Homo sapiens: one gene and its partners. The protein of the gene in region 7 purifies or fractionates together with the protein of the main gene of each other region. This does not show direct contact. Each region holds a gene or a part of one and is shown on either strand. Other genes may lie near its edges. The genes, in order: MTRES1, TEFM, STARD7, NUDT19, PRORP, THEM5 and RCC1L.

What was found.
Region 1: the proteins of RCC1L (region 7) and MTRES1 purify together in Homo sapiens (affinity purification with mass spectrometry; one large-scale study listed by BioGRID and IntAct). This does not show direct contact.
Region 2: the proteins of RCC1L (region 7) and TEFM purify together in Homo sapiens (affinity purification with mass spectrometry, with the first as the bait; one study listed by BioGRID). This does not show direct contact.
Region 3: the proteins of RCC1L (region 7) and STARD7 purify together in Homo sapiens (affinity purification with mass spectrometry; one large-scale study listed by BioGRID and IntAct). This does not show direct contact.
Region 4: the proteins of RCC1L (region 7) and NUDT19 purify together in Homo sapiens (affinity purification with mass spectrometry, with the first as the bait; one large-scale study listed by BioGRID). This does not show direct contact.
Region 5: the proteins of RCC1L (region 7) and PRORP purify together in Homo sapiens (affinity purification with mass spectrometry; one large-scale study listed by BioGRID and IntAct). This does not show direct contact.
Region 6: the proteins of RCC1L (region 7) and THEM5 purify together in Homo sapiens (co-immunoprecipitation; one large-scale study listed by IntAct). This does not show direct contact.

The regions. Positions count from the first base shown.
Region 1 is NC_000006.12:107,026,681-107,031,300, reverse strand, and holds the start of MTRES1 (mitochondrial transcription rescue factor 1), read right to left. Parts: upstream 3,103-4,620; 5' UTR 3,030-3,102; exon of another isoform or gene 2,455-3,029; coding exon of another isoform or gene 2,377-2,454; intron 1,292-2,376; exon of another isoform or gene 1,197-1,291; coding exon of another isoform or gene 1,194-1,196; intron 1-1,193. UniProt on the Homo sapiens protein: Mitochondrial RNA-binding protein involved in mitochondrial transcription regulation. Functions as a protective factor to maintain proper mitochondrial RNA level during stress.
Region 2 is NC_000017.11:30,903,072-30,907,704, forward strand, and holds the start of TEFM (transcription elongation factor, mitochondrial), read right to left. Parts: upstream 3,168-4,633; 5' UTR 3,128-3,167; coding exon 3,097-3,127; intron 1,459-3,096; coding exon 995-1,458; intron 1-994. UniProt on the Homo sapiens protein: Transcription elongation factor which increases mitochondrial RNA polymerase processivity. Regulates transcription of the mitochondrial genome, including genes important for the oxidative phosphorylation machinery.
Region 3 is NC_000002.12:96,188,137-96,192,266, reverse strand, and holds part of STARD7 (stAR-related lipid transfer protein 7, mitochondrial isoform 1 precursor), read left to right. Parts: intron 1-4,130. UniProt on the Homo sapiens protein: May play a protective role in mucosal tissues by preventing exaggerated allergic responses.
Region 4 is NC_000019.10:32,708,612-32,711,977, reverse strand, and holds part of NUDT19 (acyl-coenzyme A diphosphatase NUDT19 precursor), read right to left. Parts: intron 2,794-3,366; coding exon 2,586-2,793; intron 227-2,585; coding exon 21-226; 3' UTR 1-20. UniProt on the Homo sapiens protein: Fatty acyl-coenzyme A (CoA) diphosphatase that hydrolyzes fatty acyl-CoA to yield acyl-4'-phosphopantetheine and adenosine 3',5'-bisphosphate.
Region 5 is NC_000014.9:35,128,935-35,133,064, reverse strand, and holds part of PRORP (mitochondrial ribonuclease P catalytic subunit isoform 1 precursor), read right to left. Parts: intron 1-4,130.
Region 6 is NC_000001.11:151,850,717-151,855,641, forward strand, and holds the start of THEM5 (acyl-coenzyme A thioesterase THEM5), read right to left. Parts: upstream 2,997-4,925; 5' UTR 2,850-2,996; coding exon 2,727-2,849; intron 1,744-2,726; coding exon 1,542-1,743; intron 820-1,541; exon of another isoform or gene 476-819; coding exon 337-475; exon of another isoform or gene 1-336. UniProt on the Homo sapiens protein: Has acyl-CoA thioesterase activity towards long-chain (C16 and C18) fatty acyl-CoA substrates, with a preference for linoleoyl-CoA and other unsaturated long-chain fatty acid-CoA esters.
Region 7 is NC_000007.14:75,067,095-75,071,224, forward strand, and holds part of RCC1L (RCC1-like G exchanging factor-like protein), read right to left. Parts: intron 3,676-4,130; coding exon 3,546-3,675; intron 1-3,545. UniProt on the Homo sapiens protein: Guanine nucleotide exchange factor (GEF) for mitochondrial dynamin-related GTPase OPA1. Activates OPA1, by exchanging bound GDP for free GTP, and drives OPA1 and MFN1-dependent mitochondrial fusion. Plays an essential role in mitochondrial ribosome biogenesis.

The DNA of each region.
Region 1 (4,620 bases), on a different chromosome or scaffold from region 7:
AAGCCATAGTCTCCCACCTCAGCCTCCAGAGTAGCTGGGATTACAGGCGCCCACCACCACACCCGGCCACTTTTTATATTTTTAGTAGACACAGGGTTTCACCACCTTGGCCAGGCTGGTCTGGAAATCCTGACCTCAAGTGACCCGCCCACCTCAGCCTCCCAAAGTGCTAGGATTACAGGCCTGAGCCACTGTGCCCGGCCCTCCCTGATATCTTAAAGTTGGAGCGGCCCAGGGCTCTATCTTTGGTCCTCTTCTCTTCTACATTCACTTTATCCAGCTCAGCTCTTAAATGTACCCAATTAGTTCTTACAAATGCATTATCAAGACATCAATCATTTCTGTGGCTTTAAATACCACCTATATGCCAACCACACCCTAATCTATATCCCCATTCCAGAACTTTCTCCCAAATTCCAGACTCGTACATCTGTGCAGAAACGAGTTAACATAACAGGCCTGAGACTGCTATCCTTAGAATGCCTGCTTGCAAAGTTGGCCCTTGGCTAGTGTCTCAGAACTTGAACTTCACGAGGGTTCCCACAATTCCCACCTGGATAAGAGTGGCTCACTGTGCTGGAAACTGTACAATGTGATTCTAAACACCTGCTTTTTTTCTGGGCGGCGGAAATTTTGGCACATTCTAGGCAGACAGTGCCTATGTGACTTTTTATTGGAAAAATGAGCTCTACAAGCTTTCCTGATAGATCTCTCACGTCTTGTCATAATTTGATGCTGCAAGAATTAAGCATACCCCATGTGACTCCACTAGGAGAGGACTCTTAGAAGACTGCACCGGGTTTCCTCCAGACTGTGTCCCATGCATCTTTTCCCTTTGCTTATTTTGCTTTGTATCCTTTTGCTATAATAAATCACAGCTGTGAGTATGACTACGTGCTGAGTCTTTTGAGTCCTCTTAGTGAATCAATGAACCTGGGGACCTGCAACACAATAGCTGCCTATTTGACACCTCCACGTGGGCACATAATAAAGTCATTCATACGATGTCACTCCTTTCCTCAAATCCCTACCAAAGCACTCAGAGAACAGCAAAGTCTCTACGATGGTCTAAAGGCTCTATAGGATCTGGTGCTCCCTCAACCCCCATTTCCTCTCCAACCTCATCTGCCAATTTGACTCTTGCAAATTCAGCTTCAGCAACACTGGCATCCTCCCCTTAATTAAGCACTTACCATGTGCCAAGCACTAATCTGGGCACTAGGAATTCAGCAGAGGAAAAAAATACGAAGATTCCTATTCTTGTAGAGTTTATAGTCTAGTAGGGGAAACAGGTAGACAAAAAAAAAAACACCCTGTAAATTATATGATAGCTGGTGGTTAATGCACTGGGGGAAGAAAGTGGAGCAGGGTAAGGGGGATTGAGAGGGCAAGATGAGGTCAGGCAGGTGGCTCACGCCTATAATCCCAGCACTTTGGGAGGCCAAGGCAGGAGACTCGCTTGTGTCCAAGAGTTTGAGATCAGCCTGGGCAACACAGTGAGATCTAAAATAAAAATAGTATGGGCGCGGTGGCTCATGCCTGTAATTCCAGTACTTGGGGAGGCTGAGGCGGGCGGATCACTTGAGGCCAGGAGTTCAAGACCAGCCTGGTCAACATGGTGAAACCTCGTCTCTACTAAAAATACAAAAATTAGCCAAGCGTGGTGGTGCACACCTGTAGTCACAGCTATTTGGGAGGCTGAGGCTGAAGAATCGCTTGAACCTGGGAGGGGGAGGCTGCAGTGAGCCGAGTTCACACCAGTGCATTCTAGCCTCGGCGACAGAGCGAGTGTCAAAAAAAAAAACAACAAAACAGGCCGGGCGCGGTGGCTCACGCCTGTAATCCCAGCACTGTCGGAGGCTTAGGCGTGCGGATCAGGAAGTCAGGAAATCGAGACCATCCTGGCTAACACGGTGAAACCCCGTCTCTACTAAAAATACAAAAAATTAGCCGGGCGTGGTGGCAGGCGCCTGTAGTCCCAGCTACTCGGGAGGCTGAGGCGGGAGAATGGCGTGAACCCGGGAGGCGGAGCTTGCAGTGAGCAGAGATCGCGCCACTGCACTCCAGCCTGGGCGACAGAGCGAGACTGCGTCTCAAAAAAAAAAAAAATAGCCGGGTGTGGCGGTGTGCGCCTGTAGTCCCAGCTGCTGGGGAGGCTGAGGCAGGAGAATGGCGTGAACCTGGGAGGCGGAGCTTGCAGTGAGCCGAGATCCCGCCATTGCACTCCAGCCTGGGCGACAGAGCAAGACTCCGTCTCAAAAAAACAAAACAAAACAAAACAAAACAACACCCTGTGGAATAAAAATTGATCAGGAGGACGGGTGCATTCGAATGAATCAGGAAAAGAACACGCAATGATGGACCCTGGGAAGTGACCTGATGGAAGTTCATTTTAAAAGATCTCTTTGGCGTTGGTGTGGGATGAGTGGAGAGATGATCACGGCAGAATCCCATAGGAGGTTTTGGGTGACATCTTCAGGAGAGGTATACAATCTGAACTAACCGAAGACTGTAAGAAAAGCAGTGTCTGTAAAAAAAGCAGCGCTGACTTTGACCTGCTTGACGCCAGGAAACGCTCCACATTCCTGAGCCCGTTCACCGCTCCGTAAGATGGAGAAACTGGTCTAAACGCTTTGAAGTCTAATGCAGCTAAAGATCCTTCCCTTTACTTGGAGACCTCGGAGGCTGTGGGCTGAGACAGGGTCGGATTCCTCTCGCTCCCTCCCCACCCCCGCGGGCAGTGCACCTTCCTGGGTCCCCAAGGTCAAAGGAAATGGACAACTGCGTCCCCGGGTTCGCAGTCTGCATTCGGAGCCAGCAGGAGCGACAGGAGGCAGGAACGGAAGGCTTCGCCGCGCTCAATTACCACAGTCCCTGCGCAGCCCTGAGCTCGCGGGGCGTCCCGAGGCTGGCAGGACACGGGACACTCACGGGGAGACCCGGCGGGAGCGTGGGCGGGGCGGAGAGGCGAAGTGACAGGGGGCGCGGGCAGGGGGCCCGGCGCGGCGCGCCAGCAGAGGCGCACTCACCTGTACGTCAGGCCCTCTCGTCCCTCCCCGCGGCCGCGCGGACTGCAGGCCTCCAGGCTACCCCTATCTGCGCCCCGCCCCTTCCGCCGGCGCCGGCGCAGTGAGAGCGGGTCGGGCGGGGCGCGAGGCCAGGGCGGCAGCGAAGCAGCGACCCCTGCTGGAGGCCGCGTCTTGGAGGACTGCGCGGGAAGTAGGCTCGGGGCACACCATTCTCCCGGGTTCACGCCATTCTCCTGCCTCAGCCTCCTGAGTAGCTGGGACTACAGGCGCCCACCACCACGCCCGGCTAATTTTTTTGTGTTTTTAGCAGAGACAGGGTTTCACCGTTTTAGCCAGGATGGTCTCGATCTCCCGCCCTCGTGATCCGCTCTCCTCGGCCTCCCAAAGTGCTGGGATTACAGGCGTGAGCCACCGCGCCCGGCCATCTTAATTCTTTTTTCTTTTTTTTTTTTTTTTGAAACCGAGTCTCACTCTTGCCCAGGCTGGAGTGCAGCGGCGTAATCTCAGCTCACTGCGACCTCCGCCTCCCGGGTTCAAGCGATTGTCGTTCCTCAGTCTCCTAAGTAGCTGGGACTACAGGCGTGAGCCACCATGACCGGCTAATCATCTTAATTATTAATGAAGTGATCCTTTCTCTGGGACCACTAACCCCTTTGAACATTTTTTTTTTTGACAGGGTCTCACTCTGTTGCCCGGAGTGCAATGGTGCGATCTCGGCTCACTGCAACCTCTGCTACCCAGGCTCAAGCTGTTCTCCCCACCTCAGCCTCCCCAGTACCTGGGACTCCAGGTGTGTGCCACCACGGCCTGCTAATTTTTGTTTTGTTTTGTTTTGTTTGTAGAGATGGGGTTTCGCCATATTGCCCAGGCTGGGACTCAAGAGAAGCGATCTTCCAGCCTCAGCCTCTTAAAGTGCTGGGATTACAGGTGTAAGCCACCGAGCCCGCCCTCTTTGAACATCTCCAAGAGATATAGGCGTTGTTTCCAGAAAAATGTGCAAATACGTCAGACTCGCAGTTTAAGGAAACATCTTTTCAAGACCAACGCAATTTACACGTGAGCCAATTCCCCTTTCCCTCCCAACCAACTATCCATCCATTCGTCCATCCATCCATCCATCCATCCATCCATCCCTCTCTCATTAGGTCTGTCTGTGGAGAACTCTGACTCATACACCAAACAAGATGTCACCCTGCAACATTCTAACAAAACTTCTAGTCAAAGTCACAGATGACCTCTGCAATGTAAATCCAAAGGTCTGGTCTCATTCCTCAACTTACTTGAGTTATAGGATACCCCATTGGTTTCACCTACCTCACTTGCCACTTAATCTTCTTCCCTGTTTTTTCTTTTGTTTTGTTTTGTTTTTTTGTTTTTGAGAATGAGGCCTGCTCTGGCCCCCAGGCTGGTGTGCAATGGCATGATCTCTGCTCACTGCAACCTTCACTCTCGGGTTCAAGCGATTCTCCTGCCTCAGCCTCCTTAGTAGTTGGGACTACAGGTACGCACCACCATGCCCGGCTAATTTTTGTAGTTTTAATAGAGACAGGGTTTCACCAATATTGGCCAGGCTTGTCTCAAACTCCTGACC
Region 2 (4,633 bases), on a different chromosome or scaffold from region 7:
GGTGGAGGTTGTTGTGAGATCATGCCACTGTACTCCAGCCTGGCGACAGCACAAGACTCTGTCTCAAAAAAAAAAAAAAAAAAAAAATTGGCTGTGTCAAATATTTCTAGTATTTATTTTTTTAAGACAATAGAAAAAGAATTGCTTTTAGAATGGTGTTTTTTTTTTTTTTTTGAGACAGAGTCTTGCTCTGTAGCCAGGCTGGAGTGCACTGGCGTGATGTCAGCTCACTGCAACCTCTGCCTCCCAGGTTCAAGAGATTCTCCTGCCTCAGCCTCCCGAGTAGCTGGGACTACAGGCCCACGCCACCATGCCCAGCTAAATTTTGTATTTTTAGTAGAGATGGGCTTTCACCACATTGGCCAGGATTGTCTGGATCTCTTGACCTTGTGATCCGCCCGCTTTGGCCTCCCAAAGTGCTGGGATTACAGGTGTGAGCCAGCCGCTTTTTTTTTTTTTTTTTAATCTTACCTATAGACTTGCATGATTCAAGATAAAATGCTTTTTAAAGGAGAAAAGGTACAGAAAATAATTTTAAATTCTGCCGGAAAGACTGGTATAATGTTCTAAAGTCACTCACTGGCCATAACCTATCTTTGCTCCTTAATTTCTCATTAATCCTAACATCACCCTTAGACACAGCCTGGTATCTCCAACGACACTCCTCTTAAATAAGCCTTGCCTAGACCTGCTTCTCAGCATCAACTGTTCTTTCTACCTACAATGCCCTCCTCTCCCATCCAAAGGATCTCTCTTTTAAGACCTAAATTGAGTTCTTCCAGTAAACTTTCCACAACAGTCACAGCCCATTGTTTTCTCTCCTCTCAACTGCCAATTTACTATCTGTACATCTCATTATTTGGTAGTGATCATATACTTGCCAACTAAACCTGAAGAACCCTGTCTTAGCCACTTCCCAACCCAATGCCCAGAAGAGTGCTTTCTAGAGTAGGTTCTCAAATATTAGGCAGTATAGCAGACATGAAGAATATACCTTAAGTCTTTCTCTTTCTATGTCTGGTTTGAGGAGCTTTCTCAGGAACCGGTTTTCCGGTGACTTTCTTTTTTCCCGTCCAGTCTTTGGACAAAGTATGGAGTTACAAACTTGAACTGTACTTTTATACTTAAACAAGGGCACATTCATTAAACTCTCTAAATTCTGAAATGGCCCAAAGTTTTCTCTGTGCTCTACGATATTGATGGACCTTCTTCCACGAAGCAATCGGAAAGCTTCAAGTTCTTTAGTAGATGCTGTATTCAACACATGCAAGATGGAAGCCTGCTGTTCTGAAGAGAAGAGCTTGTCAAGTGCATTTTCGGGCTCCTTTGCATTTTCATCACAAAAAGTAACATTGGGAGTAATTTTCTTAGGTGTAGTGGATTTTTTCCGACAGCAGAAATTATGTAAGGCCCAGTACAGGGATGACCTCGACGGGGTCAGAAAGCATCTCCACCTCTCTAAAAGGAAAATTTAGCAAAATATAAGTTGGATGTCCTACTTCCTTTGGGGTTAGTTGCAAGCTTGACTAGATCCTTTGCAAAGTCACAAATACTTTCCTGGAATTTAAGAACTAATAGAGGACAATATTAAATTGTCTTGGAGAATCATCTTTTTTTTTTTTTTTTGAGACGGAGTCTTGCTCTGTTGCCCAGGCTGGAGTGCAGTGGCCGATCTCGGCTCACTGCAAGCTCCGCCTCCCAGGTTCACGCCATTCTCCTGCCTCAGCCTCCCAGGTGGCTGGGACTACAGGCGCCTGCCACCACGCCCGGCTAATTTTTTGTATATTTAGTAGAGACGGGGTTTCACAGTGTTAGCCAGGATGGTCTCCATCTCCTGACCTCGTGATCCGCCCACCTCAGCCTCCCAAAGTGCTGGGATTACAGGCGTGAGCCACTGTGCCCGGCCCGAGAATCATCTTTAAAAGAGGATTAGTTTTTAAACTATATTATATAGAGTTTTAAATAGAGCTTTTGTTGTTTTCAAGTCACGAGAGATGTCTCCCGATATTTATGGATCAGTCCGAAGTTTTACTACCTAGAAAATTGTATTTTATACCCATCAGGAAGCAAGTAGTTGAAATAATTATTCCAACTGCTTAAAGTTTCTGATATTTTTAATTTAGAGGAATCTTTTTGTAACTAATATTTCCTGTTAAGGTTTGTCTTAGGCCGGGCGCGGTGACTCACGCTTATAATCCCAGCACTTTGGGAGGCCGAGGTGGGCGGATCACCTGAGGTCGGGAGTTCGAGACCAGCCTGACCAACATGGAGAAACCCTGTCTCTACTAATAATACAAAATTAGCCGGGCGTGGTGGCACATGCCTGTAATCCCAGCTACTCGGGAGGCTGAGGCAGGAGAATCGCTTGAGCCCGGAAGGCGGAGGTTGCGGTGAGCCGAGATCGCACCATTGCACTCCAGTCTCGGCAACAAGAGCGAAACTCCGTCTCAAAAAAAAAAAAAAAAGGGTTTTGTCTTCACTTCCATTTTCACATTTTAGTATCTCATCTGGTGGAACTAAATAAAATTAAATTTTGTACGTTTATAAGAAATGTTTCAGCTAAGTGATAGATTTAAGGGCAGTTTTACTTTCTTCCGTACACTTTTCAAGACTTCTACATGACGTTTTTGCAAGTATGAGAAACACCATACAATGCATAACTTTGTAAAACCAGTGGGAAGTCACTCTAACATCGCAGCCACAGGAAAGTAATGTGGCCAGAGGTAAGCAAGCGGCTGTGAGAATGTGAACCATCCGCCCACTCTGAGGAGCCACCCGTGGACCCTGAGGCCGGGGAAGCACAAATGTTCCGAAAACTGCCCCGTCAGCTAGGCTGGGGCCCCAAGAGAGGGGCCTGAACAAGGGACATGAGGAAGGAAACACTCTAGGACATGAGGGACATGAGGAAGGAAACACTCCAGGTTCCTCCAGAATACCTCCAGCCGTATTCCATTAGCCTCTAGGGTCAGAGGCTAATGACAGACGGGAAATCACCCCAGTGTTCCAAGCACCCTACCTCCCGCCGTATTCCATTAGCCTCTAGGGTCAGAGGCTAATGACAGACGGGAAATCACCCCAGTGTTCCAAGCACCCTACCTCCCGCCGTGAAGAGGACAGACCCGCTCATCTCCAAGTTGAATCAGTAGGTCCAGTCTTCCTCCATTGACTTCCGGTTCCTGCGTGCTGCGCCCAAAAGCGCTCGGCCTGCACTCGGCGGAAAGGTTGTTGTCCAAGCGGCGTTCCGGGGCAAGGCCCGAGGTGTGTCCCGCTGAGCAGTGGGTCGTCCGCGTCTGGGCTGCGGGCTTCCAGGCGGGCGCCTGCCGAGGCCCTGTCCCCGGATCCCGAGTCCCTGGCTGGCCCGCAGTCTTCTTCCACTGCACCGGGGAAACGTTCTTGCCCCTACCGACTCCTGAGAGCCGCTGGGCCGAATCTCCAGGAAGGCGATTCCGAGGCCAGTTTTAGTCTGTAGTGGGTAAAGTGCCTCCTTCGTGGAGACTCCCTGGGTTTCTCCTAGACACTTAGATTGAGGAGCTCCTGTTGGGGCCCAGCCTGTGGCGCCGGGAGCGGGATCAGGTAGGGGCAGCGTAGACAAGGTCCTCAAATAACCTTTTCACCAGGTAGACTGGAATAACGGGGAGAGATGCGAAGTGTTTGAGGAGCTCAGCGGGGAAACAGGGCAGGCAAGGGATTAGGTAAAGGCGAGGGAGGAGGAGATTGCGTTGGCGCTGGAGCGGTATTCCTCTTAGAAGGGATAAAGGGAGATGAATGTAGCGCCGAATTTAGTTGGTCCTTGAATAATGGGTGGAGCAGTTGAATACTCCACCAGATAGGAAGCCTGAAGTCCCCGAGGTTTATGATTTGCAGTCAGACTGGAGAGTGTTCCTAGAAAATTGGCCATATACTGTATAGCGAATGTGAGGCTGGATTGCAGGTGAAGAGCCTGGGAGCAATGAGAAGTCGCGAAGAGAGTGTATCTTCCCAGGTGAGAGGCAAGCGTAAGGAATTTTTTTTTTAACAGTCTTGCTCTGTCGCCCAGGTTGGAGTGCAGTGGTGCGATCTGGACTCACTGCAAACTCCGCCTCCCGATTTCAAGTGATTCTCGTGCCTCAGCCTCCCGAGTAGCTGAGATTACAGGCGAGCGCCACTACGCCCGGCTAATTTTTGTATTTTTAGTAGAGACAGGTGTCACCATGTTGGCCAGGCTGGTCTCGAACTCCTGACCTCAGGTGATCCGCCCGACTCGGCCTCCCAAAGTGCTGGGATTACAGGCGTGGGCCACTGCGCCTGGCCAACCGTAAGGAATTGAACCTAGGAGATGTAAGGAGAGTGGAAAGAAAAGAATTATTTCTGGAAGATGGGGAGCCAGTTTTGTGAAAAACGGGGAATTCAGGAGGGAGGGAAAGGTGATGAGTTTGCGTTTTTATGAGGCAGCAATGGGTTGATTGTTTGTGTCTGGAAGGCAGTGGGGATGTAGGGGAATCATAAGTATTAATAAAATGTGCTGGTCGGGAGCAGTGGCTCCCAAAGTGTAATTCCAGCACTTTGGGAGGCCGAGACGGGCGGATCGCTTGAGCTCTTGAGTTCCAGACCACCCTGGGCAACATGGCGAAACCCCGTCTCTACGAAAAAATTA
Region 3 (4,130 bases), on a different chromosome or scaffold from region 7:
TTCTCGCTCGGGGGAGTCTGATGCTACTGGTCTGGGAACCATTTTTTGGGAACTCCTGACGTAGGTGATGTACCTGGAAGTTCCCCAAGGACAAAGTAGTGGCAATCCATTGGTTCCCTCTTATCTGAGAGATAGTTAAAAGAATCATAGCCACTGACGCATTAGCCTGTATCAGTAGCATTCTTCAGGAACTAGAGCGAGTACCTCCTGTCAACATTTTACTACAGTGGGCAGAGCACTGGATGGAAACTTTTCTGGATTTCTGCTTCCTTGCCAGAGTAATGGGAAGATTGGACTCATGCTGTCTGCCTTCTTTAAAATTCTGTGACCTTTCTTTGAAAAGAATATTTATTTCAGCCTAATGAGGTGTTTTGTGTTTATTTTTTATCTTTTTAAGCTAAATCTCCACTGAGAGTATAGATATTGATGCTAGTGGCTGCTGGTTTTAGTTCCACTTCACCTTATAATGGCTTTGTTTCTCCCTATTGCTTGTGTTCGATTTAGGGCTATATGGACAGTGTTCTTTAGTGTAGTTTTCTTATTCTCATCAAGTTGTTTTATTTATACCACCTCAAGGACTTGAGTTGGTCCTTGTAAAAAAAAACAAAAAAAAAAGTACACTGGATAGAGAGGAAAGCAGGCAGGGCACTAGGGTTAGAAGACATGATTCAAGCAAAGACAAAGATAGGAATGAGCCAGGTATGCACTGAGAGACTCACATGCTTAGAGAGGAAAGTAGAGGTTAGGGAGAAGTGATAAATTGCATTGACTGTGTACAGAGGGTACTCGAAAACCATGTAGCTGAGTTTGGATTTGCCAAATGGGAATTAGATCTTTGAGCCAAGGTAGGGGGTTTTTATCATGGAAAATTTGAAATAGATACAAAAGATACAGAAGTAGAAGAGTATAATGAACCCCCTGTATCCATCCCCAGCTCCAGTTATCAACTTATGGCCAAAATTGTTTTATCTATACCCTTTCCCATTTCCTTTCTCACTCCCCTGATTATTTTGAAGCAAATTCTAGCTTTACTGTAGGAGAACCCAGTTCTTCTATTATATATTTCAGTATTTATCTCAAATAAGGATTTTGGGTTTTTTTGGAAACAGGGTCTCCCACTGTTACCCAGGCTAGTGTGCAGTGGTACAATCACAACTCACTGCAGCCTTGACTTCCTGGGCTCAGGTGATCCTCCTGCCTCAGCCTCCTGAGGAGCTGGGATTATAGGCGTGTGCCAACATGTCAGGCTAATTTTTTGTATTTTTTGTAGAGATGGGGTCTCACCATGCTGCGCAGGCTGGTCTCAAACTCCTGGACTCAAGCAATCCTCCCACCTCAGCCTCCCAAAATGCTGGGATTAGAGGCGTGAGCCACTGTGCCCAGCCCAAGTAAGAAATTTGTAAAACAGCTCTGGGCCAGGCAGCATGGAGAGACCCGGTCTCTACAAAAAATAAAAATTAGCCAGGCATGGTGATATGTGCCTGTAGTCCCAGCTGCTTGGGAAGCTGAGGTTGGGAGAATCACTTGAGTCCAGGAGGTCAAGGCTGCATTAAGCCGTGTTTGTGCCACTGCATGCCAGCCTGGGCAACAGTTTGAGACCCTTCTCAAAAAAAAAATAAAAAATAAAAAAGCCAGGCGCAGTGGCTCACGCCTGTAATCCCAGCACTTTGGGAGGCCGAGGCATGTAGATAACTTGAGGTCAGGATTTTGAGACCAGCCTGGCCAACATGGTGAAACCCTGTCTCTACTAAAAGTACAAAAATTATCCAGGCATTGTGGCACGTGTCTGTAATCCCAGCCACTTGGGAGGCTGAGGCAGGAGAGAATGGCTTGAACCTGGGAGGCAGAGGTTGCAGTGAGCCAAGATCGTGCCGCTGCACCCCAGCGTGGGCGACACAGTGAGACTCGTCTCAAAAAAAAAAAAAAAAAAAGACACAGACTTAAATGTACTTAGTTTTTAAATATATTATCCTTATTGATGCTCAAATTGATTCCAGTTTTGGTCATTGGGAGTCTTCTTGTTGGCTCAAGCCCCTTTGACATGACCCCAGAAGCTGTCTTGCTTTCTGGTGTTACAAGATGTTGTAGGTTCATCTTGTATATTTTTAGTTTTACACCTGGAAATTAACATTTCTTTAGGGAGTCCTGGTTCCTTTTAGTGGAAAATGGCATTTAAATACCACAATTTGGCTGCTAAGAATATTCATAGCTATTGGGTCGTTTATTGTTTGTAGGCCTTTTCAGAAGACAGAACCAAGTAATACATTTTACTGGTATGTTTATTTTTAAGATAAAATAAATCCTAAGTATATACTAATACTTTTAATTCAAATTCAGGACTATGGAGTTTTTATTTCTATCTTCTATCTTTTGTCTTTCCCTGTACTGTAGAACTCAATTCCCAGGAACCCTAACACAACTACTAATTTGTTGAAATACACAGCCTCAGAATAACAATACAGTAAGATCACCAATAATACGAAGAATAAAATTTTGTGGTCTTTTTGTCTTCAGGATGTGCATACTGTGTACAAAATATTGATTTTTTTTTTTTTTTTTTGGAGACGGAGTCTCGTTCTGTTGTGCAGGCTGGAGTGCAGTGGTGCGATCTTGGCTCACTTGCAACCTCCACCTGCCAGGTTCAAGCAATTCTCCTGCTTCAGCCTCCCAAGTAGCTGGGATTACAGATGTGCACCACCACGCCTAGCTAATTTTTGTATTTTTATTAGAGACAGGGCTTCACCATGTTGGCCAGGCTGGTCTCGAACTCCTGACTTCAAGTGATCCGCCCGCCTCGGCCTTTCTGAGTGCTGGGATTACAGGCATGAGCCACCGTGCCCAGCCCCCAGCTAAGATTTATGACAGTGTCAGAGTAAAGATATGCAGCTGGATCATAAGAGAAAAAGGCACAGGAGGAGTCTGGAGGAGTCCATGTGAAGCTTCCTTCCCCAGCAATGAAATGTAGCAATATGTGTGCAATGTTTCTGTTTAGGAAGGCCATTAGAAATTTAACACTCTGGCTGAGCACGGTAGCTCATGCCTGTAATCGCAGCACTTTGGGAGGCTGAGGCAGGAGGATCTCTTTAGCCAAGGAGTTTGAGATCAGCCTGGGCAACACAGGGAAGACCCAGTCTCTGCAAAAAATAAAAAATTAGTTGTGGTGGTAGTGCATGCCTGTAGTCCCTGCTACACAGGAGGTTGAGGTGGGATGACTGCTTGAGCCCAGGAGGTGGAGGCTGTACTGAGTCGAGATTGCATCACTGCACTCCAGACTGTGCAACAGAGTGAGACCTTGTCTCAAAAAAAAGAAAAAAAAAACACCCAAAGTGTTTTTTTTGTTTTTTTGTTTTTGTTTGTTTTGTTTTGTTTTTCTGAGATGAGTTTCGCTCTTGTTGCCCAGGCTGGAGTGCGATGGCGTGATCTTGGCTCACTGCAACCTCCGCCTCCCGGGTTCAAGCAGTTCTCTTGCCTCAGCCTCCCGAGTAGCTGGGATTACTGGTGTGTGCCACCACACCTGGCTAGTTTTTTTTTTTCTTTGTATTTTCAGTAGAGACAGGGTTTTGCCATGTTGGCCAGGGTGGTCTCAAACTCCTGACCTCAGGTGATCCATCTGCCTCAGCCTCCCAAAGTGCTGAGATTACAGACGTGAGCCACCACACCCAGCCCAAAGTGTTTTTTAAAGACGGAGTCTTGGCTGGGTGCAGTGGCACACGCTTGTAATCCCAGCACTTTGGGAGGCCAAGGTGGGTGGATCACTTGAGGTCGGGAGTTCGAGACCAGCCTGACCAAGATGGAGAAGCCCCGTTTCTACTGAAAATACAAAATTAGCTGGGCATGGTGGTGCATGCCTGTAATCTCAGCTACTGGGGAGGCTGAGGCAGGAGAATCACTTGAACTCAGGAGGTGGAGGTTGTGGTGAGCCGAGATTGTGCCATTGCCCTCCATCCTGGGCAACAAGAACGAAACTCTGTCTCAAAAAAAAAAAAAAAAAAAAAAAAAAGTCTTGGTCTGTCACCCAGGCTGGAGTACAGTGGCTCAATCTGTGCTCACTGCAACCTCTGCCTCCCGGTTCAAACGATTCTCCTGCCTCAGACTCCCAAGTAACTGGGATTACAGGCGTGTACCACCAC
Region 4 (3,366 bases), on a different chromosome or scaffold from region 7:
TACAAACAAGCTTAAGCACCCTACAAATGGCTTTTTCTTACTACAGAGTTCTTAGGATAAACGTGTTTATACTTTGGCTGAACAGTCACGTGGATATCATAAAGGTGGCGATGGTATGTCACTATCCGGTGAAACTGCTTGCCTTCCTTCATGATTTCCTCAGTCTTTTTTTCAGTAGACATAAGATTTTCCAAAAAGTCTGAATCTTCTAAATATAGCTCATCACCTGAAAAAGGAAAAAATCTGATTTTATTTTTAAATACAAAATTATTTTTCACCATGGCAGAAAGTATAAAATTTTAATTCCATCGAGTATTATTTTATAAATCACTCCAATATACTAATGAAATACAAATCAGTATTTTTATCTATTTCATATGTTTGGAACTGAGATAGTTGTTAAATCAGTATTTATTTTGATCTATTTAATATGTTTGGAACTGAGATAGTTGTTAACTAATCTAATTCTATGAGCTTACCTCAATTTCTTTATTGTGTTTTTTTATCTGTTTTTTGAGATGGAGTCTCACTCTGTTGCCCAGGCTAGAGTGCAGTGGCGCGATCTCGGCTCATTGCAACCTCCACCTCTTGGGCTCAAGCAATTCTCATGCCTCAGCCTCCCGAGTAACTGGGATCACAGGTGTCTGCCACCACGCCTGGTTAATTTTTGTATTGTTAGTAGAGACAGGTTTCGCCATGTTTACCAGGCTGGTCTCAAACTCCTGACCTCAAATGATTCACCCACCTCGGCCTCCCAAAGTGCTGGGATTACAGGCGTGAACTACTGCGCCTGTCCTCTTTCTTGTGTTTTTAATATCCCCTTACAACACCCCAGCCAAGAGTTTTCTTTGGGCCCATAAACATCTGTGACTGGTATGTTTCCACTGTGAACTGTAACTATTATACCAGTTCATGACTCTCTTTATTCTATTCAATACTGATATTAAGATTGGCCTTGATATTCATATACTTTTGATGTTTCAAAGTGGGCTGTTCTTATCATCTTCAGGTTAATTTAGAGAAATTCCATCAAAACTGCTAAATTTTCCCACTGTAGGTTGAGTAATAAATCTTTTTTTTTTTTGAGATGGAGTTTCGCTCTTGTTGCCCAGGCTGGAGTGCAATGGCGCAATCTCAGCTCACCACAACCTCTGCCTCCTGGGTTCAAGTGATTCTCCTGCCTCAGCCTCCCAAGTAGCTGGGATTATAGGCATGCGCCCCCATGCCCAGCTAATTTTGTATTATTAGTAGAGACGGGATTTCTCCATGTTGGTCAGGCCGGTCTCGAACTCTCGCCCTTAGGTGATCCACCCGCCTCAGCCTCCCAAAGTGCTGAGATTACACGTGTGAGCCACCGCGCCCAGCCTTTTGTTTTGTTTTGTTTTTGACAGAGAGTGTCGCTCTGTCGCCCAGGTTAGAGTGCAGTGGCATGATCTTGGCTCACTGCAACCTCTACCTCCTGGGTTCAAGTGATTCTCCTGCCTCAGCCTCCTGAGCAGCTGGGATTACAGGTGTGTGCCACCATGCCTGGCTAATTTGTTTTTTTTTTTTTTTTTTGTATTTTCAGTTGAGATAGAGTTAACATTTTACTTTATTTTCTTCATAATTTCATAATTCATAATTTCAATTGAAATTATGTCCAACTGAAAAAAAAAAACAAAGTTGGCTGGGCACAGTGGCTCATGCCTATAATCCCAGAATTTGGGGAGGCTGAGGCGGGCGGATCACCTGAGGTCAGGAGTTCAAGACCAGCCTGGCCAACATGGTGAAACCCTGTCTCTACTAATAATACAAAAAAATTAGCCAGGCGTGGTGGCACATGCCTGTAATTCCAGCTACTCGGGAGGCTGAGGCAGAAGTATCGCTTGAACCCAGGAGGCAAAGGTTGCAGTGAGCCCAGATTGCACTCCAGCCTGGGTGACAAGAGCAAAACTCTGTCTCAAAAAAAAAGCTCCCTAATTCAAATTAGATGACAACTTACGAGTTCTCGTAATTCAAACTTAAAATGCAAAAAAGTGAGAAATCAGCCAGGCATGGTGGCTCATGACTGTAATCCCAGCACTTTGGGAGGCCAAGGCGGGTGGATCACAAGGTCAAGAGTTCAAGACCAGCCTGGCCAAGATGGTGAAACCCCGTATCTACTAAAAAAAAAATACAAAGATTAGCCGGGCACAGTGGTGGGCACCTGTAATCCCAGCTTCTTGGGAGGCTGAGGCAGAGAATTGCTTGAACCTGGGAGGTGGAGGTTGCAGTGAGCCAAGATTGTGCCACTGCACTCCAGCCTGGGTGACAGAGGGAAACTGTCTCAGAAAAAAAAAAAAAAAGTGAGAAATTATATGAGAAAGACCTTTGTCAATGTCTAGGAAATATATTAATATAAATGTATGTGTATGTATATGACATTATGCAGAATTTCTGGTTATAATAATATGGATATTTTATAGGCTTTGATCTTACTTAGCTAATACCCTGTAGATTACAAAACACAGACTGTAATTCCTGTCTCTACGTTGGGCAATACAGCCATGCAGCCCAGGGCACTGAATGTGAATACTAACAAAAGCACCGATGCTTCACTGGTTTACCTGGTAAAAGATGGACCATCCCATCAGCAGTTAACAAGATGATCGGCAGCCACCTTTCCAGTCCTTCTAATGCACGACCCAAACAAAATTTGTGCAAGTCAGAGAGAGAGGCAAAGTTTGCAAGTCTTCTCACTTCGTAGAACTGTGGGGGTGGCAACCAAATTTCTTTTGATAAGAAACTTTCAGTTGCCTCTGATGGAGATGACCACTGTGAAAGACAAAGGCAGGGTTTCTTAAGGTTTATGCCATAGACAATGTGAGACTTGAGACAGTCAGACCAGTACCTAAGGTAGAACTGAATGTGTAAAATGAATTCATTAATGCGCCCTGTGAGATCCCTCAAAGACAACATGAAAAGATTCAGTGAAGAAAGCTGGGTTGATCCTCTTAAGAGGTTGCTTATTAGGACACTGATCCTCAGAACTAGTAAATAAACCAGGGCAGACCCCTGAGGCTTGACCTGGGAGAGCTGTTCAGCATAAGAGGTGGGAGATGCAGAGAGGGTAAGGTGGTTCCGGTCCCTGCTGAAAGAAGAAAGACTCTGAAGGGTAAACTCATCACAGTAGATGGAGAATTTGGTGCCTGTTCATTCCTCTGGGAAATGGGTACTTGGCTAGATCCTGAGGATATAATGATGGACACCACAAAGCTCTCCTAGGCCCTATGGGGACTTCAGCAACCAAAATGCTTTGTGATGTGGTGATGTGTGCCACATGGTACAACGGCGGTGAAGCATCAGGAGCAACAGCAGCTTTCAGGAAGTCACCTGGCATGACTCAGC
Region 5 (4,130 bases), on a different chromosome or scaffold from region 7:
CTGTAATCCCAGCTACTCAAGAGGCTGAGGCAGGATAATCGCTTGAACCTGGGAGGCAGAGGTTGCAGTGAGCCAAGATCATGCCATTGCACTCCAGCCTGGGCAACAGAACAACACTCCGTCTCAAAAAAACAAAACAAAACAAAACAAAACAAAACAAAAAAACACTAACTCAAAGCATTGAATGATCAAACTTACTTTCCTTCCTTCTTCCTTCTTCCTTCCCTTTCCTTTGCTTTGCTTTCCTTTCCTTTCCTTCTTCCCTTTTTTTTTTTTTTTTGATGGAGTCTCACTCTGTCGCCCAGGCTGGAGTACTGTGGCGCAATCTTGGCTCACTACAACCTCCGCTTCACGGGTTCAAATGATTCCCCTGCTTCAGCCTCCCGAGTAGGTAGGATTACAGGCACGCACCACCATTTCCAGCTAATTTTTTTTTATTTTTAGTAGAGACAGGGTTTCACCATGTTGGCCAGGCTGGTCTTAAACTCCTAAACTCAGGTGATTCACACCCACCTCGGCCTCCCAAAGTGCTGGGATTACAGGCGTGAGCCACAATGCCTGGACGAATAATCCAACTTTCTTTTTTTTCTTGTTTTTTATTTTTTTGAGATGGAGATTTGCTCTTGTTGCCCAGGCTGGAGTGCAGTAGTGTGACCTTGGCTCACCGCAACCTCCGGCTCCCAGGTTCAAACGATTCTCCTGCCTCAGCCTCCTACGTAACTGGAATTACAGAGGCCCGCCACCACGCCTGGCTAATTTTTATATATTTTGTAGAGACGGGGTTTCACCACGTTGGCCAGGCTGGTCTCGAACTCCTGACCCCAGCTGATCCACCCACCTCAGCCTCCCAAAGTGCTGGGATTACAAGTGTGAGCCACCACACCCAGTTGAATAATCCAACCTTCAACGGATAAAGAAAGGATTGGGGCTGGGCGCAGTGGCTCATGCCTGTAATTCCAGCACTTTCGGAGGCCGAGGCGGACGGATCACCTCAGGTCAGGAGTTCGAGACCAGCCTGGCCAACATGGTGAAACCCGTCGCTACTAAAAATACAAAAATTAGCCAGGCGTGGTGGCAGGTGCCTGTAATCCCAGCTACTTGGGAGGCTGAGGCAGGAGAATCACTTGAACCTGGGAGGCGGAGGTTGCAGTGAGCCAAAATAGCACCACTGCACTCCAGCCTAGGGGACAAGAGTGAGATTTCTTCTCAAAAAAAGAAAAAAAGAAAGGATTGGCTAGGTGTGGTGGCTCACACCTATCTATAATCCCAGCACTTTGGGAGGCTGAGGCAGGCGAATCACCTGAGGTCAGGAGTTCGAGATCAGCCTGGCTAACATAGTGAAACCCTGTCTCTACTAAAAATATAAAAATTAGCTGGGTATGGTGGCAGATGCCTGTAATCCCAGCTACTCGGAAGGCTGAAGAAGGAGAATCGCTTGAACCCAGGAGGTGGAGGTTGCAGTGAGCCGAAATAGCACCACTGCACTCCAGCCTGGGTGACAGAGCAAGACTCTGTCTCAAAAAAAAAAAAAACCAAAAAGCAACTAGAGAAAAAAACAAATAACATACAATGGAGCTAAAATACATCTGGCAGCAGACTTTTCAGTGGAAACCTTACAGGCCAGGAAAGAATGGCATGACATATTTAAAGTGCTGAAGGAAAAACACTTTTACCCCAGAATAGTATATGCAGTGAAAATATCCTTCAGACATGAAGGAGAAATAAAGACTTTCCCAGACAAACAAAAGCTGAGAGATTACATCAACACCAGACCTATCCTACAATAAATGCTAAGGAGTACTTCAATCAGAAAGAAAAGGATGGCCAGCTGTGGTGGCTCATGCCTGTAATTCCAGCACTTTGGGAGGCCGAGGTGGGTGGATCACCTGAGGTCAGGAGTTCAAGACCAGCCTGGTCAACATGGTGAAACCCCGTCTCTATTAAAAATACAAAAACTAGCCAGGTCTGGTGGTGCACGCCTATAATCCTAGCTATTCAGAGGCTGAGGCAGGAGAATCACTTGAACCCAGGAGGCGGAGGTTGCAGTAAGCTGAGATCGCGCCATTGCACTCCAGCCTGGGCGACAGAGTGACTGCCTCAAAAAAAAAGAAGAAGAAGAAAAGGACCGTTACTCTGGTGACTCACGCCTATAATTCCAGCACTTTGGGAGGCCAAGGTGGGAAGATCACTTGAGCCCAAGAGTTTGAGACCAGCCTGGGCAGCATAGTAAGACCCTGTCTCTATATTTAAAAAAAAAAAATGGCAGAAAGAAAAGGACATAGGCCGGGTGCAGTAGCTCACACCTGTAATCCCAGCATTTTGGGAGGCCGACGCAGCTGGATAAAGTAAGGTTGGGAGTTCGAAACCAGCCTGGCCAACATGGTGAAACCCTGTCTCTACTAAAAATACAAAAATTAGCCGGGTCTGGTGGAGGGTACCTGTAATCCTAGCTACTTGGGAGGGTAAGACTCAAGAATCACTTGAACCCAGTGGGGGCGGAGGTTGGAGTGAGCTGAGATCGTGCCACTCCATTCCAACCTGGGCGACAGAGTGAGACTCCATCTCAATGAAAAAAAAAAAGAAAAGGACATTAATGAGCAATAAGAAATCATCTGAGGGTACATAACTCACTGTTAATAATAAGTACACAAAAAGACATAGTATATTATAACACTGTAACTATGGTGTGTAAACTAAAACTACTCTTATCTTTAGAAAGACTAAACAATGAGTTTAGTGAGGCAGTGCCTTACGCCTGTAATCCCAGCAGTTTGGGAGGCCGAGGCGGGCAAATCATGAGGTCAGGAGATCAAGACCATCCTGGTTAACATGGTGAAGCCCCGTCTCAACTAAAAAATACAAAAAAATTAGCCGGGCATGGTGGCGGGCACCTGTAGTCCCAGCTACTCGGGAGGCTGAGGCAGAAGAATCACTTGAACCTGGGGGGCAGAGGCTGCAGTGAGCTGAGATTGTGCCACTGCACCCCAGCCTAGGCAACAGAGCGAGACTCCGTCTCAAAAAAAAAAAAAAAAAAGAAAGTCTAAACAATGAACCAATCAAAAATAATAACGACTATAACTTTTCAAGACATTGATAGTACAGTAAGATATAAATAGAAACAATAAAAAGTTAAAAAGCAGGGAGACAAAGTAAAGGTGTAGAGTTTTTATTAGTTTTCTTTTTGCTTGTTTGTTTATACAGTGTTAAATTATTATCAGCTTAAAATAATAGGCTATAGTTAAGTATTAGTGAGCCTCATGGTAACCTCCAATCAAAAAACATACAAGGCTGGGCACGGTGGCTTACGCCTATAATCCCAGCACTTTGGGAGGCTGAGGAAGGCAGATCATGAGGTCAGGAGTTCGAGGCCAGCCTGACCAACATGGTGAAACCCTGTCTGTACTAAAAATACAAAAAAAAAAATTTGCTGGGCATGGTGGTGTGCGCCTGTAATTCCAGTTACTCAAGAGGCTGAGGCAGGAGAATCTCCTGAACCCAGGAGGTGGAGGATGCAGCGAGCCAAGATCGCACCACGGCACTCTAGCCTGGGCGACAGAGCAATACTCCATCTCAAAAAAAAAAAAAGAAAAATACAACAGATACACAAAAAATAAAAAGCAAGAAACTAAATTATATCACCAGAGAAAATCATCTTCACTAAAGGGAAGAAAGGAAGGAAAAAATAAGACCACAAAACAACCAGAAAACAAAATGGCAGGACTAAGTCCTTACTTATCAATAATAACATTAAATGTATCTAGGCACGGTGGGATATAACAAAAGCAGCTATAAGTGCCTATATCAAAACAGAAGAAAAACTTAAAATAAACAACCTAAATATGCATCTTTTTTTTTTGAGATGGAGTTTCACTCTTGTTGCCCAAGCTGGAGTGCAATGGCGTGATCTCGGCTCACTTCAACCTCCGCCTCCTGGGTTCAAGCGATTCTCCTGCCTCAACCTCACGAGTAGCTGGGATTACCAGCGTGCGCCGCCATGCCCAGCTAATTTTTTTTTTTTTTTTGTATTTTTAGTAGAAACGGGGTTTCACTATGTTAGCCAGGCCGGTCTCGAACTCCTGACCTCAGGTGATCCACCAGCCTTGGTCTCCCAAAGTGCTGGGATTACAGGC
Region 6 (4,925 bases), on a different chromosome or scaffold from region 7:
CAGCAGCAGCCAGGCAGGACACCAAGTCAGAGTCTAGATTCCGGATCTTGCCCTCTTCCAAGTGTACCACATTCTTCTCAAAGTGGCCTCTCAGGTCTTTTGTCCAGAAAATTTTGAGACTTTGATGAGAAGCCCATATCTGCACACTGGGGATTAGGCCAGATAACCCTGTGTGTCCTTCCAGGCCTGGTATTGTGAGGCTGAAGCCTAGTGCCCCACACTCCCTTCCTCACCCCTTAGAGAAAGATAGAGACTCCAGGGCCAGCCTGGTGGGTGCTGAACCTGCCCTGCTGAGCCAAGCCCAGGAGGCAGCCAAGGTCCTACCAGTGACCTTACCCTGGGGGCCCCTCCAGGTAGGAGCCTGGTTGGAAAAGACAGACCGACTTCTTCTGGGTTGGCTGGAAAAAGATGACATACTCAAAGCCTTGTCCTTCCACTTGGATGCACCTGGTGAAGATGCGACAGTCACCTTTGTCTGGGGAGAGATAGGCAGTGTTGCAGCCGGAGAAGGGAGGGTATGGTCAGGATGCAGCACCATTTGGTTGAGTCTTGCCTCTGGTACAAGATTAAGGAGAGAAAACCAGAGGACACCAGGTCCACCCCCAGGGAGCCTTCCCTCTGGGAGCAGAGGCACAGTTGCTGTCCTCACAGAGCCTTTCTGTCTAGGGCAGAAACATGCAGGAAGTGCCCTGGCTGAGAATGGAGATAGGATCAGGGCCAGGGCAAGACTTTAAGAGACCATAAGCATTGAAAATTGAAAATGTAATTACTCATGTAACTCACATATAATTCAAAAGAATAATAGTAAACAGTAAAATAAGAGCAGAAAAGTCCATCAAAGTTCTGATTTTTTTTTTCCAAGACAGCTACCACTACTACATCCTTTTTTGGAAGTATCAAATTCTTTGAAAAAAAATTATGTTGGTATTCCTGCTTTGTTTGTGCCATAAACCCAAGGGTAGTCTGTCCCCTGTACCACTCCTTCATCACTAGGCAGGAAGACAACATATATGAGTGAGAGAGACAGGGAGATACACATGCGTGCACACACGAGTGCACACACACACACAAGAAGGTGGAAGCTCTATCATTAGGATCCATTAGGATCATTAGGTGTTTCAGGAGTGCTGCTCCAGACCCCGCACAGCAGGGATGATGTGCAGGGCCTCAGTGGAAGGGGTGTGGGGTCCAAGGGCTTTCATGGGGTTGGGGCGGAAGGCTTGGGATGAGGCTTGATAGTTAGGGAGGGGCAGTCAGTGAGAAGTCGGGGCAGGAGCTGGGCTGGCTGTCCTCCAGTGGGGACATGCTTGGCTGGGAGCGAAGGTGGGCCCACCAGGGTGTGCTGCTTCAGATGGGAGGAGGGGAGCTGGAGACCTGAGAGGACACCCGCCGCCTGTTGCCTGGGGCTGCAGCATCAGGGGTGGAGTTGGACAGCAGGAAGAACTCGCTGAGAACTGGAAGGCGGTCTGTGAAGTTGCTTCTCAGTCTTAGAACACAGGGAAGGGCGGCTGGGGTGTGTGTACTCATGGTCCTGTCCTTACCTGAGGAAACTGCCAGTCCAGATGGGAGCTTGAGTCCCCGGATGTGGTCTCTGTTGGACTTGAAGGAGGGCAGCTTGATCCAGCCGCTAGACTTAGTCTTCTCCAGAAATTCTTGGTACAGGCTCAGCATGTCCGAACACCAGCTGGCATTGGGAAGAGCATAATCCTTCAAGTCTGTCTTCTCTGGCAAGAATCTTGAGAACTGGGCAGGAAAAATCAGAATGACTAGACAGCATCCTGGAGGGGGGCTGCTGCCTGGGCTCGGGACCTCTAAACAGCTGTTCCTGGGTGCTGGGGCTTCTCAATCCCTTCTGCCAGAGTATCGATCCAAGGGAAAGGGCCCATATTCCTTGCAGGGGGGCTGCGGACCCCTATGGGTGACGGGGCATAAGGATGCTAAAGAGCAAGGGAAGGGCGGGCAGGGAGTGGGGCCAGAGATGATGGGCATGCTGCTCGATGTGGTGCCTTACCCTTGTTCTGCTTAAAACATGTGAGCAGTTCTTTAAAGTTGACAACTGCTCATATTAGCCTCACTGTACAGATGGGGAAACTGAGGGAATACGGCCAAGGTTGCCAAGCATGTGACTGTGAGAGCTGGTGGTCGCACTAGATGCTGTCTCCTCTGCAGGGCAGGGTCACAGTTGTTGAGGACCATTCTAGCAACCCCCACCTCAGGGGCTACTCCAGCTCTGCCCACTGCTGTGGGCCTGCCTGGGCAGGGTGGCTCCTTTGAAACACATTTGGGCCCCCACAGAGGTGTGGTGCCATGGCTGGGGCACAGACTATGTGCCCATCTGTGTGACGTAAGGAAGTCCTCTGTAGCGTCACCTGCTCATACACCAGTCACAACTGTAGACAGCATGTGAGCTGCTTGCCAATGCCACAGATGGGGTCCTCTGTCTGGGGATACCCCAGCTTTGCTGCAGTAGTCTGAGTCCCACAGGAGGAAAGTCATTTGTTGGTGGCCACACAAGACACAGAGCCAGATGCAGGTCTCCTGGTAGTTTTAGTTTTGAATGGGGGCAACTTGGTATCCCAGAGCACTTTCTCTTTGCCAAATCAAATAGCTCCTCCGAACACTGCCCACCTGCCCTGGCCATGGGCTGGGAAGAGGAGATTTGGGGTGCTCCTTAAGCCCTAGGCTCCTGGGAAAACACTGCCCATCTGGCTGAGCTGGGAACTCACCATGGAGTCTGTGGAGGATCCAAATGCTGAGGCAGGGTTGAGTCTGGGCAGGATACGGGGGGCCTCAAGAAGGCCTCTGTGGTGGCCAAGTCTTGCTGCCACCTGGAAGCATCTCCTTATCATGGCCAAGTGCAAGGATCCAGCCCTGCTTGGATGGAGGGTCTTGGCTGACTCCCAAGGAGTGCTTTCAGCTGCACTTGGGGCCGCTTCTCTCCCTTCTGTTGCAGGCTTTCTTTCAGAGAGCTAGGCGAGGCTGGGCTGGTGTGCTGCAACACCCACAGATGCTCGGCGCCTTTAGCTGGTCTAGGAGCCCCACCCAGTGCTTGGGGAGGGACAGATGCTGCTTGGGCATGAAAAGGCAGCAGGACTGGCTTGAGTTGCAAAAGGAGTAAACAAGTACATAAACAAATAGTATGGGGTATATAGAGCCTTGGAGAGCTGCCTGGGGGTTCTGAGGGAGAATCCAAGAATATTTCCAGAAGGATAAGGGAAGCCTGTCCCTTGATTGGAGGGTGCTGGTGGAGTGTTCTTGGTATGTGCTCTGCAGTGTATACCGGACTCTGAAAACTCTGGTATGATTTTGTGACTCAGAAAACCAACTCACAGGCCGGGTGCGGTGGCTCACGCCTGTAATCCCAGCACTTTGGGAGGCCGAGGCGGCGGATTACGAGGTTAGGAGATCGAGACCATCCTGGCTAACACGGTGAAACCCCGTCTCTACTAAAAAAAATACAAAAAATTAGCCGGGCGTGGTGGCGGGTGCCGGTAGTCCCAGCTACGCAGGGGGCTGAGGCAGGAGAATGGCGTGAACCTGGGAGGTGGAGCTTGCAGTGAGCTGAGATCTAGCCACCGCACTCCAGCCTGGGCGACTGAGCGAGACTCCGTCTCAAAAAAATAAAAATAAAAAAATAAAAAAAAAGAAAACCAACTCACAGCCTTAGACACCTCTTTTTTTTTTTTTTTTTTTTTTTTGGTGAGACGGAGTTTCAATCTTGTCGCCCAGGCTGGTGTGCAATGGCGTGATCTCGGCTCACTGCAACCTCCGCCTCCTGGGTTCAAGTGATTCTCCTGCCTCAGCCTCCTGAGTAGCTGGGATTACAGACACACACCACCACACCCAGCTAAATTTTGTATATTTTTTTTAGTAGAGATGGGGTTTTGCCATGTTAGCCAGGCTGGTCTTGAACTCCTGACCTCAGGTGACCTCCCAAAGTGCTGGGATTACAGGCGTGAGCCACCGCACCCGGCCAACACCTCTTCTTATATCCCGGACAAGGGTTAGCACAGGAGAGTTTCACCTGCTGGTCTCTGGCTGGGGATAGGAGTTGGAGGTGGGGGAGGGCTTGACAGGGAGGGCAGAAAATAATTTGGGAGGAAACAGCTTGGCAGGGATACTCTCATGTTTTGGGAACCCCGTGCCCAGGGAGTGGCTCATGTCAGCAGGCAGTGCTGGGAGTGAGGTGGGCGCGGCAGTGAGGCTTTGTTGAGTGGGAAGGGACACTCAGCCAACATCTGCAAGGCAGTGGGATTTGGTGGTGGTGTGTCTTCTATTGAATTTAAACTGCCAATTTTCAATTAAAAGTCTCAGTTTTAAATTGACTAAAATAAAAGCATGTTCTAAAGATCAGTCCTCGCGCAGTGGCTCAAGGCTGTAATCTCAGCATTTTGGGAGGCCGAGTGAGACCTTGTCTTAAAAAAAAAAAAATCAGAACTGTGCAAAGGTGGAATCATAACAGTGATGATGACGATAATAATAGTTGTGATGATTATGACATTTTGGCAGGTTCCAAAAGATGAAACTGATTTAATGCGGAAATTTAAAAGATTTGGTTCACCCTCTGTATTTGGTTGCCCTAGAAGAAGACTAGAATATAAATATTTCCCCTCACCTCCTGCAAAGGTTTGAATTAAACTTCCTCAAGGACTGGGGGAACCATTTTTTTTTGTTGTTGTTATTTTGTCAGAGTCTCACTCTTATTGCCCAGGAGTGCAGTGGCACCATCTCGGCTCACTGCAACCTCTGCCTCCCAGGCTCAAGCAATTCTCCTGCCTCAGCCTCCCAAGTAGCTGGGATTACAGGCGCTTGCTACTACGCCCGGCTAGTTTTTATATTTTTAGTAGAGACGGGGTTTCATCATGTTGGCCAGGCTGGTCTCAAACTCCTGGCCTTGGCTGATCTGCCTGCCTCAGCGTCCCAAA
Region 7 (4,130 bases):
AGTTCGAGACTAGCCTGGCCAAAATGGTGAACCCCATCTCTATTTAAAATACAAAAATTAGCCGGGCATGGTGGCGGGCGCCTCTAATCCCAGCTACTCGGGAGGCTGAGGCAGAAGAACTGCTTGAACCCGGAAGGCGGAGGTTGCAGTGAGCTGAGATTGCGCCATTGCACTTCAGCCTGGGGGACAAGAGCGAGACTTCATCTGGAAAAAAAAAAAAAATGCATACTTCGTCTTCTTATTAAAGAAATCTTGGCCGGGCAGTGGCTCATGCCTGTAATCCCAGCGCTTTGGGAGGCCAAGGCAGGCGGATCACTTGAGGTCAGGAGTTTGATACCCACCTGGCCAACAAGGTGAAACCCCCGTCTCTACTAAAAATACAAAATTAGCCAGACGTGATGGTGGACGCCTGTAGTCCCAGCTACTTAGGAGGCTGAGGCAGGAGAACTGCTTGAACCCAGGAGGCGGAGGTTGCCAGTGAGCCAAGATTGCACCACTGCACTCCAGCCTTCTGGGAGACAGAGCGAGACACTGTTTTAAAAAAAAAATACAAAAATACAAAAATCAGCCAAGCATCATGGTGCATGCCTGTTGGTCCCAGCTACTTGGGAGGCTGAGGTGGGAGGATCACTTCCAGCTACTTTGGAGGCTGAGATGGGAGGATCACTTGGGCCAGGGAGGTTAAGGCTGCAGTGAGCAGTGATCATGACACTGCACTCCAGCATGGGTGACAGGGCAAGACCCTGTCTCCCCTTACCCCCCCAAAAAATTAAACTGTTGGAATTTGCTTCAAATTTATTGAGGGGGAAGGTGGGAAAAATGAAGAAAACGAGACTGGCATGAGTTGATGATGCCTGAAGCTGGTGATGCCACATCATACTACTCTGCACACTTCTGTAAGTCTAAAATTGCTCTGAATAAAAGGTATAAAAAATGTAACGCGGGCCGGGCACGGTGGGTCACGCCTGTAATCCCACCACTTTGGGAGGCCGAGGCAGGTGGATCACCTGAGGTCGGGAGCTTGAGACCAGCCTGACCAACGTGGAGAAACCCCATCTCTACTAAAAATACAAAATTAGCCAGGCATGGTGGCACATGCCTGTAAATCCCAGCTACCTGGAAAGCTGAGGCAAGCGAATTGCTTAAATCCAGGAGGAGGAGGCTGCGGTCAGCCAAGATCACGCCATTGCACTCCAGCCTGGGCAACGAGAGTGAAACTCTGACTCAAAAAAAAAAAAAAAAAAGTAATGTAACATCTTACAGCTAATAAAGACTTCTATACTGACTTATAAAAGACATCTGATATATAGGTCGGGCATGGTGGCTCACACCTGTAATCCCAGCACTCTGGGAGGCCAAGGCAGGTGGACCACTTGAGGTCAGGAGTTCAACACCAACCTGGCCAACGTGGTGAAACCCCCGTCTCTACTAAAATCCCCAAATTAGCCAGGTGTGATGGCGGGCGCCTGTAGTACCAGCTACTCAGGAGGCCGAGGCAACAGAATCACCTGAACCCAGGAGGTGGAGGTTGCAGTGAGCTGAGATCATGCCACTGCACTCCAGCCTGGGCGACAGCAAGACTCCATCTCAAACAAACAAACAAAAAAGATATCTGATACAAAATAAATGAAAAAAGACAGAAAACAAAATATATGCTATGTATGTAAAAATGTATTTGTCTGTGAACAAGGGAACAGGAAAAAACAAAAATGAAAGGTTTGTCCAGTATGTACTTCTGGGTAATTTCCTATGTTATTTTATATTTATTTATTTATTTATCTTTTATTTATTTTGAGACGGAGTCTTGCCCTGTCGCCCAGGCTGGAGGGCAGTGGTGCGATCTCGGCTCACTGCAACCTCTGCCTCCCAGTTCAAGCGATTCTCCTGCCCCAGCCTCCCGAATAGCTGGGATTACAGGCGCGCGCCTCCATGCCCAGCTAATTTTTGCATTTTTAGTAGAGACGGGGTTTCACCATGTTGGTCAGGCTGGTCTCAAACTTCTGATCTCGTGATCCACCCGCCTCGGCCTCCCAAAGTGCTGGGATTACAGGCGTGAGCCACTGCGCCTGGCATTTCCTCTCTATTTTAGGAACTCTTTCTTTTTTCTTTTTTTTAAGAGACATGATCTTGCTCTGTTGCCCAGGCTGGAGTGCGGTGGCGCAATCACCGCTCACTGCAGCCTCAAACTCCTGGGCTCAAGCAATCCTCCTACCTCAGCCTCTGGAGTAACTAGGATTATAGGTGCATGCCACCATGCTCAGCTAATTCTTTTTCGTTTTTCATTTCTTTTTTTTAGAGACAGAGTCTCGCTATGTTGCCCAGCGTGGTCTGGAACTCCAGGCCTCAAGCAATCCCTCCCATCTCGGCCTCCCAAAGTGCTGGGATTACAGGCGTGAGCCCCTGTGCCTGGCCAAGGAAATATTTCTTACTGTTCTCACAGTAATTTTTAGCTAATGTCTACTTTTCTGTTTGTTTGTTTGTTTGTTTAGGACAGTCTCACTCTGTCACCCAAGCTGGAGTGTAGTGGCATGATCTCGACTCACTGCAACCTCCACCTCCCAGGTTCAAGAGATTCTTGTGCCTCAGCCTCCGAAGTAGCTGGGACTATACAGGTGCGTGCCACCATGCCCGGCTAATTTTTTATATTTTTAGTAGAGACGGGGTTTCACCATGTTGGCCAGGCTGGTCTCGAACTCCTGGCCTCAAGTGATCTGCCCTCCTCGGCTTCCCAAAGTGCTGGGATTACAGGCTGCCCTCCTCGGCTTCCCAAAGTGCTGGGACTACAGGCGTGAGGCACCACGCCCAGCCAGGCTAATGTCTACTTTTTAAAATGCCATTATAAGTTATTTCTAACATTTTTACAATCCAAGGCTCAAACATTTGGAATAAAGCCTCCATGTTAACGATTTCAATGCTTTTTCCCTCCAAAACATATTCTAGGCACTGCAGAGTACTTCACGCTGTCTGTCTCCAAGCCAGGAAAAAAAGGTCATCTCTTTTAGGCCACAAAAGAACATCTTTACTTATCTGCAAATGCCAGGTGCTTGCCTTTTGCCTGAGGGTTCAACATTGTTACCAAAGAGGCTAAAAAATAACCTAGCCCAGATGGTTTCAAACAACATCCCTTTAAGTCTTCCTCTATTTCTTTGCTATTTCTTTGTTTATGTAACCATGTTCTTGAACACCAAAGGGAGGGCTGGGCGCTGTGCCTCATGCCTGTAATCACAGCACTTTGGGAGGCTGAGGAGGGTGGATCACCTGAGCTCAGGAGTTCGAGACCAGCCTGGTGAACATAGTGAAACCCCAACTCTACTAAAAATGCAAAAATTAGGCAGGCATGGTGGCATGTGCCTGTAATCCCAGCTACTCGGGAGGCTGAGGCAGGAGAATCACTTGAACCCGGGAGGTGGAGGTTGCAGTGAGCCAGGATCTCGCCACTGCACTCTAGCCTGGCAACAGACTGAGACTCTGTCTCAAAAAAAATACAAAAAAAGAGCTTTCTCAGACCAATCCCGGCAAAGAGGAGACAAGGTAGGGATGCTCACTTTTATCTTTCCGGCTCCTGTGAAATCCAAGCTGAGAATCTTTGTTGAGTCCCATCCCCCAGACTTTCGTAACATCCGCAGTCTTAGAGGACAGCAGTGTGAATCCATAGCCGCAAGCAGCAGATGAAATCTGAAAAGCAGTTCCCACAAAGCATGAACTGATTTATAATGTCAAGTTTGTTCAGTAGTAAATGACAGGTTATTTATCAAATCCAAGAACACATACTATTTACGGGGGTTTTGTTTTTGTTTTTGAGACAGTCTCACTCTGTTGCCCAGGCTGGAGTGCAGTGGCGCAATCTCGGCTCACTGCAATCTCCATCTCCCAGGTTCAAGCCTCCCAAGTAGCTGGGACTACAGGTGTGCACACCACGTCTGGCTAACTTCTGTATTTTTAGTAGAGACAGAATTTCACTATGTTGGCCCAGGTGATCTCAAATTCCCGGCCTCAAGTGATCTGTCCGCCTTGGCTTCCCAAGGTGCTGGGACTATATGCGTCAGCCACCGTGCCTGGCCCAAGAACACATATTATTAAGACAGCAACTAGCATTTATTGAGCATTTACTATATGTTTGATAAGTATTA